2 linked regions of the Homo sapiens genome follow. The protein of the gene in region 1 purifies or fractionates together with the protein of each later gene. This does not show direct contact. Each region holds a gene or a part of one and is shown in the gene's direction. Other genes may lie near its edges.

Evidence for each region.
Region 2: the proteins of CTDSP2 (region 1) and POM121 purify together in Homo sapiens (affinity purification with mass spectrometry; 3 studies listed by BioGRID and IntAct, with this or other methods). This does not show direct contact.

The regions. Positions count from the first base shown.
Region 1 is NC_000012.12:57,839,566-57,844,784, reverse strand, and holds part of CTDSP2 (carboxy-terminal domain RNA polymerase II polypeptide A small phosphatase 2), read left to right. Parts: intron 1-1,023; exon of another isoform or gene 1,024-2,526; intron 2,527-5,219. UniProt on the Homo sapiens protein: Preferentially catalyzes the dephosphorylation of 'Ser-5' within the tandem 7 residue repeats in the C-terminal domain (CTD) of the largest RNA polymerase II subunit POLR2A.
Region 2 is NC_000007.14:72,934,254-72,939,472, forward strand, and holds part of POM121 (nuclear envelope pore membrane protein POM 121), read left to right. Parts: intron 1-4,336; coding exon 4,337-4,428; intron 4,429-5,082; coding exon 5,083-5,156; intron 5,157-5,219. UniProt on the Homo sapiens protein: Essential component of the nuclear pore complex (NPC). The repeat-containing domain may be involved in anchoring components of the pore complex to the pore membrane. When overexpressed in cells induces the formation of cytoplasmic annulate lamellae (AL).

The DNA.
Region 1 (5,219 bases):
GACCTCGGTGTTGCCATGATTTCTGCTCTCCTGGCTGCATCACTAACCAGGCTGTGACCCAGGCAGCAACTTCACCGCCTCTGCTGGCTGCTCAACTGTGCTGATGGCTGAAAAAGGAAGGGAGCCTGCGTGTGTTTATAGCTCACTCCTGACTCTTCCCACTCCCTTTTTATCCCAGGAAAAGACCCTAAGAGCTAGCCAGAGGGGAAGAAACCTAGATGTGGGGGGATTCAAGAGGGGGCAGTGGTGATGAGTAGGGGGAGGAGCCCTGTGCTTCCCCACTAGGTCTTCCTCTCTTGCAGGGACTCTCTTGCAGGGAGTGTGCCTTGGGCATCGTGGGGCCACGCGAGGAGTAAGGGAAAGCTGGACTGCGCCGGGGCATCTTAGAAATCAGAGCTGGAAGTTTCATCCACCAGGGTGAATGGCAGGCTACAGAATAGATAACAGCAGAAAGCAAAGCAACTGGCTTGACAGTGTTAAGTTGCTGGTGTTGGATTTTCTTGGAGTTAATGTTTCTCCTTTTTTGTGTGTGTGGTTTAAGCCAGCAGCCACTGGGTCTCTCCCTCCCCATGTAATTTTTTATTTTAATTGAGATGGAGTCTTACTCTGTTGCCCAGGCTAGAGTGCAGTGGCGCAATCTCAGCTCACTGCAACCTCCGCCTCCTAAATTCAAGCAATTCTCCTGCCTCAGCCTCCCAAGTAGCTGGGATTACAGGCGCGCGCCATCACGCTTGGCTAATTTTTTTGTATTTTTTAGTAGAGACAGGGGTTTCGCCAGTTGCCCAGGCTGGTCTCGACTCCTGAGGTGATCAGCCCCCTTCGGCCTCCCAAAGTGCTGGGATTACAGGCGTGAGCCACCGCGCCCGGCCCCTCCCCATGTAATTTGATTGCATTCCAGAGAAGACAGACTTTCTTCCTGGGCTGCTTAGGCACCCAGCAACCACTAAACCAACTTTCTGAGTCCCACATCATTTACAAACAAAACCTACGTCTTCAAAACAAAACAAAAAACAAAAGCTGGGGGACTGGGGAAGCAGATGTTTTAATTGGCTCCTTTTGGAGTTCCTTCTTCTCCCCACTCCGTCCTCTCCACAACATCCCATCTCCATGCCTTGCCTGCCTTTGGAAAAAGGGGAAGAAGGAGTGTGAGGTACTTATTATTAATAAGTAAATTTCTGGAAAGAAACAAATTGCTCCTAGCTTGGGTGGCTATTTAGTGAAGTTACTTGCCATTGCGGGTTTTTTTTTTCTTTTTTTAGCATTCTGTTCTCTGAGGTTTAAGGCTGTCTGGGTGCGTTGATGATTCAAAAGTAATTACAGTAGGGGAAGTAGAACAAAGTTGCTGAAAGCATTGATGATAAAAGCACCAAAATTGGATCATCTTCCCAGACAGATGGGTGAAATGGCTTTCTGGTACAGCAAGGACAGGATTGTGTGTAACATCAAAAAGAAAAAAGAAATGTTAATATCAGCTTGGCAAGAATGGCTGTTGATTGCAGCTCTATATGAGATTGTCACCCCATTGCTAAGAGGTTGTGACCTTGGCTTTGGGATTAGATGGGGGAAAGCCAAGGAAACAAGACCCACGCTGTAACCTCCCAACGTGAAATGAGACCTGGTGGAGGCAGCCTCTTCCGGAGCTCAGTGACCCACACGCCTTTTGGAGGAATCAGAGATTTTTTTGTTGTCCATGAATCCTGATGCCCCTTCCTCTCGATGATGCCCTGGATTACCTTCTCACATGCCGAACTGGACAGGTTCTGATAGCTAATTGCAAGGATTCTTCTGAGAGACTGACCATCTCTGAAAATTACGATGTGGCAAGTTTTCAGGATGGCTAGCTCTTTTGTTATCCGCATAAGGGAGAAATTCTGCCTTATTCCCTCAAAAAGTTGTTCAGACACCGTTCACTGTAGATGTAGGCAAGCCTTTAACTTGAAAAGCTTAGACATGAATCTTGCTGGAGCTTCCTTCCATAGCTTGCTATGCAGGGGGCGGGAAGCCTGCATGTTTATAGCTGGCTCCTCCTCCTGCCCTGCTGGTGCCTCTCACCTTCCTTTGCCTACCCTGGGTCTTGGCCTCTTTGTGCTCTCACAGTGACTGCTGAGGCTCCCTCCTGCATCTCCTTTGGAGTTTTTCCCCCATCTTTGGGTAAGGGTTGCAGCCTGCGTGGTGACTTAAGCTTGTGTTTGCTCCTGTCCCCAAAATTGCAGAGGAGCGCTGATAAATCAGCAACAAAGTTTGTAAATGCCTAACATCTGGGGCTGGGGGTTTGCAGTTGACTTGCAGAGCTTTCCACTGAGCAGCACTGGAATTGCTGTGAAAAATCCCTCGGAGGATGGCAGAGGTGGGGGTGTTCCTTTGTCCTCTCTTCTCAACCGTAGAGGTCTTAAAGAAACTGGGTAGCAGAGAGGTGTCATTTCATCCTTTCCATGGGACCTTCCAAATCCCTTATCATGGATTTTGTTAAAATGGTAAATACTAAAGAAGTCACATTTCTAGCCAACGTGAATTGATGCTCCCAACCTGTGAAGAATTAAAGTGTTTGTAAATAAGCATGGAAAAGAAAGACAATATGTAAATATATATGGGATTGTGTGTATGTGTGTACATATCAATACATAGCTTCCCTTCCAATTCCTCCTACAATTTTTTTTTTCTGCTAGCTTTTGGGTAATTTGGGGTATTGTCTTTTATTCCCATCATGGTAAGTTTGGTTCTTAGATTGGACAGAGTGGGGACCAGGGTCAGGGATGGTGGTTAAAGTTTACATTGTTACTTCAAAGCATTGTTTCTGAAGCAAAATTGCTTCAGGCCTGGGTTCAAATACCTTCTTTTCCTATTTGCAATGAGACTTGATAAATCACTTTAGTATTCTGAGTAACTTATCTATAAAGTAGTAATAATGATATCTACCCTTCTATTATACTTGGTACTTAGTAGGTGCTTGATAAATATTAATGTCCTCCCTCTTTACATAGTTAGACTACTCTGTTCGCCCTCCTCCATTCCCCCAAGGACACAGTGTAAACAGCACGTAGTCTTGTGGGTTTTATTTTTCAAGACAGGTGGCCGGGGGTCAGAGGGGACACTGATTGTGGGGGCTTGGGCCTTCTGGAAGGATCAACCTCTTAGGCTTACAAACAGCCTTGCTGCACAGACCCCTTCTTTGTGTCATGTGACTTGGGATGTGATTTGTTATCTGCCTGGGCTGTGGGACTTTGGCCATTCTGTCTGGTGCCTGGGCATCTGGGGGTGGGAGAAGGCCAGGCATGTGCCCCCTGTGAGTCTCTAAAGTCTAAACTTCCTTAGAGGTTCTCAAATATGGATATAACGAATATTCAGGACAACTGTATGCTACATTCTCTCACTGTCTGCTTTGAGAGTTAATGAATTCAGAGAGATTGAGGTTTCTTTTAGGTAATTTTAATAAGAGGGGGAAAAAGAAAATGGGGTTTGAAGAGAAATAGATGTTCTTAAGCTATTTGTTTGCTCCTGTGGTTTTGGGGTACAACATTGAGAAAGTACAAAAGCAGCATTGATCTGCTTTTCATCTTGTCTTAGTCTGGCCAGCTCTGGGAAGCATGGAATTAACTCGCTTGTCTTTGGGACGTGGGATTGGGTGTGGCCCTGACATATTTCCCTCACTTTTCTGAAATGGAGTAGTAGTTCTGAACTGGGATGCAGATGAGCACATTAACACGCAAATCTTACAAAGAAAGTACTAGAAATTAAAGTGGATAAGTTGACGACTTAAAACTGGAAGCATCTCTGGACCAGAGACCAAATAGAATGGAGTTTCTTTGTCTGGCAAAATGCCCAGCCCTTCAGGTCTGAGTATGCCTGCACCAGGATCTGTTATCACAGGGTACTCCAGTGAGCGCCACAGCCTCCCTCTAGGCAAAAGTGTGTATGCCCTGTTTTATGTTAGCTATTCTAGGAGTTAGCCTTGAACCTGATCTCTGAGTGGATCTGACATTTCCATTTCCCTCCTAGGTGCTCTAGTCCTTCCCCCACCCCCATCCCCCCAAATCAGACTTTGCTCTTACTCTCTTTTTATTCTATACCTTCTTTTATTTCTTGCCACAGCTTTTTCCATCCTCTTGAATTTGCACTTTCCCATCTGCATTGTTCCCAGGGAACAAATATGGCCCCAATCCCAGTGAGAGCCAAGCAGACTCATGGAAAGGCTCAAATTGCCTGCGGAAGGCTTCCTGGATAGTAGATCCCAGCTTTTCTGTTCCCGCAGCAGAATAGAGCTAGGACCCCTCTTTCACAGGAACAGGGGCCTGCAGGTAGAGACAGCAGACCCAGGTTTTCTGACTCACGTCACATAGAACTACCCCTAGAGAAGAAAACTGGATCCTAGGCATGAGTCCTCTAAGGCTTGCAGAAACACTGAGCCAGTCAGGTACGGTGGGGAGAGGGGCCAAGGGGACTTTGGCTGAATTGCCTTCTAGCCCTGGGTTAGTCAGAGACCCTGGCAACCGGTAGATACTGGCTCTCAGCCAGGGACACACATCAGAGTCTCCTGTGACACTTGCTAAAAATACAGACCCCCCACCTGGGATCTGCTGAATCAGCGCATGGGCAGGTGGGTCAGGCATGCATGTGTTCCAAATGCTCCTTGTGGCTCTGACAGGTGCCCCTGGAGAAGAGCCAGGTAGGCACAGCAGTGGCCCCAACTGCCTGTTTTGCCCCGAGCAGGAAAATTCCTCTTGGTGGTCCCGTTTTACTGTATGTTAAAGATCTGTGGCTCTTCAAGGGGAGTCCTAAAGTTTTCAGAGTAAATGGACAGAGTAATGATCCATCCTTGTTTACCCAGTAATGGTTACAGCCAATATTTATAGAGTACTTGCCATAGGCAAGGTACTATTCCTAGCATTTTATATCTCGTATCTCACTTAGTTCTCCTGACAACTTTTCCTTTCCAATAAGAGGAATTAACCTCACTTTACAGATAAGGAAAACTTTCACAGGGAGAGGGAAGGACTTTGCCCAAGGGTACATGGCTAGTGTCAGCCAGACATTTGCATTGTCTGGCATTTCACTTTTTTTTTTGAGATGGAGTCTTGCTCTGTCGCCCAGGCTGGAGTGCAGTGGCGCGATCTCGATCTCAGCTCACTGCAAGCTCCACCTCCTGGGTCTATGCCATTCTCCTGGCTCAGCCTCCTGAGTAGCTGGGACTACAGGCGCCCGCCACCACGCCCGGCTAATTT
Region 2 (5,219 bases), on another chromosome or scaffold:
TTTGTATTTTTAGTAGAGATGGGTTTTCACCATGTTGGCTAGGATGGTCTCGAACTCGTGACCTCAGGTGATCCGTCCGCCTTGGCCTCCCGAAGTGCTGGGATTACAGGCGTGAGCCACCACACCTGGCCCCAAGTTGTTGTCTTTTTCTTAGAGATTTGAATACGCTCTTTATATGTTCTAGATACAAGCTGTCTGTCATGTATGTGTTGCAACAAAAAAGTGTCCTGCTCTTGCCATTCTACTTCCTTGTGGTTAGCATACTTTGTGTAGTATTCAGGAAATCTTTGCCTACCTAACCTAAGGTCATGATAATTTTCTTCTGTGCTACCTTCTAGAAGCTTTATTATTTTATTATTACTTTTATATGTAAATCCATAAACCACCTGAAATTAATTTTTGTATATGGTGTGAGGTTGGAATCAAAATTAGTTTTTTTTGTGTTTGGTGGTGTTGGTGGTTTTTGTTGTTGTTGTTGTTGTTTTTTACTGTAGAAATACCCATTTCTCTTAGCAACATTTATTGAAAGGACCATCCTTATTTCTCTGCAGCACCGTCTTTGTCTAATTTAAGTGTCTGTATATATGTGGGTCCATTTCTAGACTCTGTTTTGTTCCATTGGTCTATTTTTCTACCTACCCTTGTGCCAGTCTTTGTTTTACCCCTAGCCTTATACTTTAAGTCTTGATAGAGTCAGTCATCCCACTTTCTCATTTCTCTTCAGGACTGTCTTGTATCTTGGCCTTTTGCATTTTCATATAATTTTTAGATCAACTTGTCAATTTCCACAAAAAAAAAAAAAAGTTCTGAGATACTGATTGGGATTGCCTTTCATCTACTGATTACTTTGGATGGAATTAACATTGTTACAATATTGACCTTGTTTACTTCTAATCTATGAACATGGAATGTCGTTATTTATTTATTTAACTTTTGAGACAAGGGGTCTTGCTCTGTGGCCCAGGCTGGAGTGCAGTGACATGATCATAGCTCACTACTGCCTTGAACTCCCAGGCTCAAGCGATTCTCCTGCCTCAGCCTCTTGAGTAGCTGGGACCACAGGCATGCATCACCACACCTAGCTAATTTTTAAAAACTTATAATAGAGACACAGTCTCACTATGTTGCCTAGGCTGGTCTCAAACTCCTGAGCTCAAGCAATCTTCCCACCTTGGCCTCCCTGAGTGCTGGGATTGTAGGCGTGAGCCACCATGTCCTGCCTCCTTCATTTATTTACATCATCTCTATTTCTTCTCTGTAGAGGTTTTACTTCTTTTTTATTAGATTTACAATCTCGGCTCACTGCAGCCTCCACCTGCTGGGTTCAAGTGATTCTCCAGCCTCAGACTTCCGAGTAGCTGAGATTACAGGCACGTGCCACCACACCTGGCGAATTTTTGTAGTTTTAGTAGAGACAGGGTTTCACCTTGTTGGCCAGGCTGATCTCAAACTCCTGACCTCAGGTGATCCACCTGCCTCTGCCTCCCAAAGTGCTGAGATTACAGGCGTGAGCCACGGCGCCTGGCCCTAGGTATATGCTATTCTAAATAGTGCCTTCATATATGCTATTCTAAATAGTGCCTTCAAAATGTGATTGGCTGTGCTGGTGTGTAGAAATACAACTGATTTTGTATTCAGAAAGTTTGCTAAATCTGTATGTTCTTTAGGATTTTAGTACATACACTCAGGTCTATGATAATGAGTTTTTCCTTTCCTCTGCAATCTTATTCTGTTTATGTCTTGCTGCACTTGGCTAGGACTTTAAGTTGAATAGACATGATAATAAACATCCTTGTCTTGTTAGATCTGAAATGAGTGTGTATGTACAGTCAATGAAGTAGAGGAGTAATACTTTTTTCCCCTAATTGTTAAACCAGTTGTTCAGTTGTCTTCCAGTCCTAGCTAATCATTACAGTCTCCTTTGGCATTTCTGTTTTTTCTTTATTTTTTCTTGGTAGAGATGAGACTTCACTATGTTACCTAGGCTGGTCTCAAAACTCTTGGGCTCAAGTGATCCTCCCACCTTGGCCTCCCAAAGTGTTGGGATTACAGGCATGCACCACCACACCTGGCTAATTTTTGTATTCCTTTTTTTTTTTGAGACGGAGTCTTGCTCTGTCTCCCAGCCATTCTCCTGCCTCAGACTCCCAAGTAGCTGGGACTACAGGCACCTGCCACCACACCCGGCTAATTTTTTGTATTTTTAGTAGAGACGGGGTTTCACCATGTTAGCCAGGATGGTCTCAATCTCCTGACCTCGTGATCCGCCCACCTTGGCCTCCCAAAGTGGTGGGATTACAGGCGTCAGCCACCGTGCCCAGCTTGTTTTTGTATTTCTAGAAGAGATGAGGTTTCACCATGTTGGCCATGCTGGTCTGGAATTCCTGACCTCAGGTGATCCTCCTGCCTCAGCCTCCTGAAGTGCTAGGATTACAGGTGTGAGCCACCTCGTCTGGCCCCTTTGGCATTTCTGACCCTTGCTTGCTCAGTGATGTGTATCCCTCAGTGTCTGGAGCACATTGTGAAGAAAAATGCAAGGTTTATGGTTTTTATTGTTTTAATTTTATTACTTTAACTACAGGTAAGGTCTTGCTATGTTGCCCAGGCTGGTCCGAAACTCCTGGGCTCAAGCAGTTCTCCTGCCTCAGTTCTGAAAGTGCTAGGATTACAGGTGTGAGCCACCGCACTCGGCCATCTATGTGCTTTTAAAGTTCCACAGGTGGCTAGGTGTGGTGGCTCACGCCTGTAATCCCAGCACTTTTGGAGGCCAAGGCAGGCAGATCACGAGGTCAAGAGATCAAGACCATCCTGGCCAACATGGTGAAACCCTGTCTCTACTAAAGATACAAAAATTAGCTGGGTGTGGTGGCATGTTCCTGTAGTCCCAGCTACTCGGGAGGCTGAGGCAGGAGAATCGCTTGAACCAGGGAGGCGGAGGTTGCAGTGAGCTGAGATCGCGCCACTGCACTCCAGCCTGGTAACAGAGCAAGGCTCCGTCTCAAAAAAAAAAAAAGTTCCACAGGTGACTGAGCCGTCCTTTGAGAACCAGTGAGGTAGTGTCAGGGATCTGAAGTGATTGAAAATGCCGCTTATATATTCAATCCTTGGATCCCTTTGATGAATTTTTGTATTCTGCTCTTTTATATGCCTGTAATCCCATGTTTTTTAAACCATTGTGCTCTGGCCTTTCTTGCTGTTTGAGCGTAACTTCAACTGTTATTGCCGTGAGCAGTCTTCTCAAGCTCCTCCTGGGCCCGGCTTCCTGATGGTGGCCTCACTGAACTGTTCTGCTGCTTACCACTTGTCTGAAGCTTCCTCTTTTCCCTTTTTGAACTCTTATTAAGCATTGCTGGCTTCCTGTTTGTACTTATATGATGTAGCTGGTACTGGGTAAGAAATCACTAGCAGCTTTTCAAGTAGGAAAGACGGTCTGAGGTGACAGTTTAGTGGCTTTGTAATTAGGCTCAGCACTTACGAGACTATTTGCAGTGTCCGCTCTGTGCCATCTACTTTGCTGCTGGTCTGTGGAGGAAGCAGAGATGAAAACACCGTCTTTGCTGTCAAGAACTCACCTGGTGGAAGAGGCAGATGTATGGATAATCATCACATGATGATAAATGCCATCGTTGTTGCAAAAGTCATAAACGTTACGACAGCATATTTTTAAAATGAAGTTAGTAAATTAAAATAGAAAATTTAATAGAAGCAAGACTAAATTAGTTTACTGGGTTATCTTCTTTAATTTACTTCTATCCTCTCCGTAGACAGTCTGGCACAGGTTTGAATGTGTCCTGGCTCTTCATTACTGAGGCTAACGTTCCACCTAATATATGCAAAAGTGTGTCCATCCCTTCTACCTTTATTCGCATTCCATTACTTTTATAGACTTTTCTTCTTTTGCTTTCATAATTAATACTGGCAGTTGACTTTCTTTTCAGGGGTCTTTCTTCACAAACAAATTTTTTTCATTTTCTTTTCTTTTTTTTTTTTTGAGACAGGGTCTCACTCTGTCACCCAGGCTGGAGTGCAGTGGGGCAATCTCAGCTCACTGCAGCATCCTGAGTAGTTGGGACCACAGATGCAAACCACCACACCCAACTGATTTTTCAGTTTTTTTGTAGAGACAGGGGTCTCGCTATGTTACCCAGGCTGGGCTCAAATTCCTGGGCTCAAGCGATCCTCCCACCTTGGCCTCCCAGCATGCTGGGATTACAGGCATGACTAACCATTTAACCATAAAGAATGTTTTTTTAGTCACTTGAAAAGAGACTTTGTCGTGTTGAGGGTCAGATGCTAAGTTATCAGCAGGCTCAGTCATGTCCCTCTTGATTTTTAGCTCTGGAAGAGAAATGGCCCCAGTTCATCACCCTTCTCTAGCCCAGCCTCCTCCCGCTCCCAGACACCGGAGAGGCCAGCAAAGAAAATAAGGTACTTGGCATTCTCCTGCAGTTTTCATTTGCTGCGTGGACAGGCGGGGGTGAGGAAAGGTGGGAAACGAACCTGGCTCTTAGGCTTTGTGCTGCTGTGACTTGGAGAATCAAAGAAACTTAAGTCCCTGAGAGGTACAATGCAGTACCCACCCGAAGTGCTGTCATCCCTACAGTCTTGGATACTGACTCCAGTGGCCTCTGGCTGTCGCCTCCCACTCCAGCATGAGGGATCGGGTGCAAGCACAGAGGCCATGCAGAGTGGAGAGCAGAGAGAGTCAAGTCAGCGGGCAGTCGCCTTCAGGTTCTTGACTCGAGCTGACCCCCTAGGTGCTTGCAGTTGGCTGGAATGCCACTCCCTCAGGGATCACATCTGTGTCTAGAACTCCCAGGGACTTGATAGGTTGTAAGTAAGGTTTGAAGATTATTGTTTTGTGCTTGTTTTAAGACAAAAGCTGTCTTCATGGCCTCTGTGAACAGCCTCCCTTCATTCTGTTGGAATTTCCTGTTGACTTTTTTTATCCTGGCATACTGAGATCTTAAATGATGGTTGTTTTAGACATTGGCCACTTGGTAGTTAGGAGGGTGTGAGAAATTATTTAATACTTCAGCCAAGAAGCCTTTCTAGACTAAATTGTTCCTTTTTTCCTGACAGAGAAGAGGAGCTGTGTCATCATTCCAGTTCTTCAACTCCATTGGCAGCAGACAGGGAGTCCCAGGGAGAAAAGGGTAGGTTGCTGAGCCAGGAGGAGGGGCTGCTGTTGGTGGTGGAGGTGTTTGTGGAGGATGTAG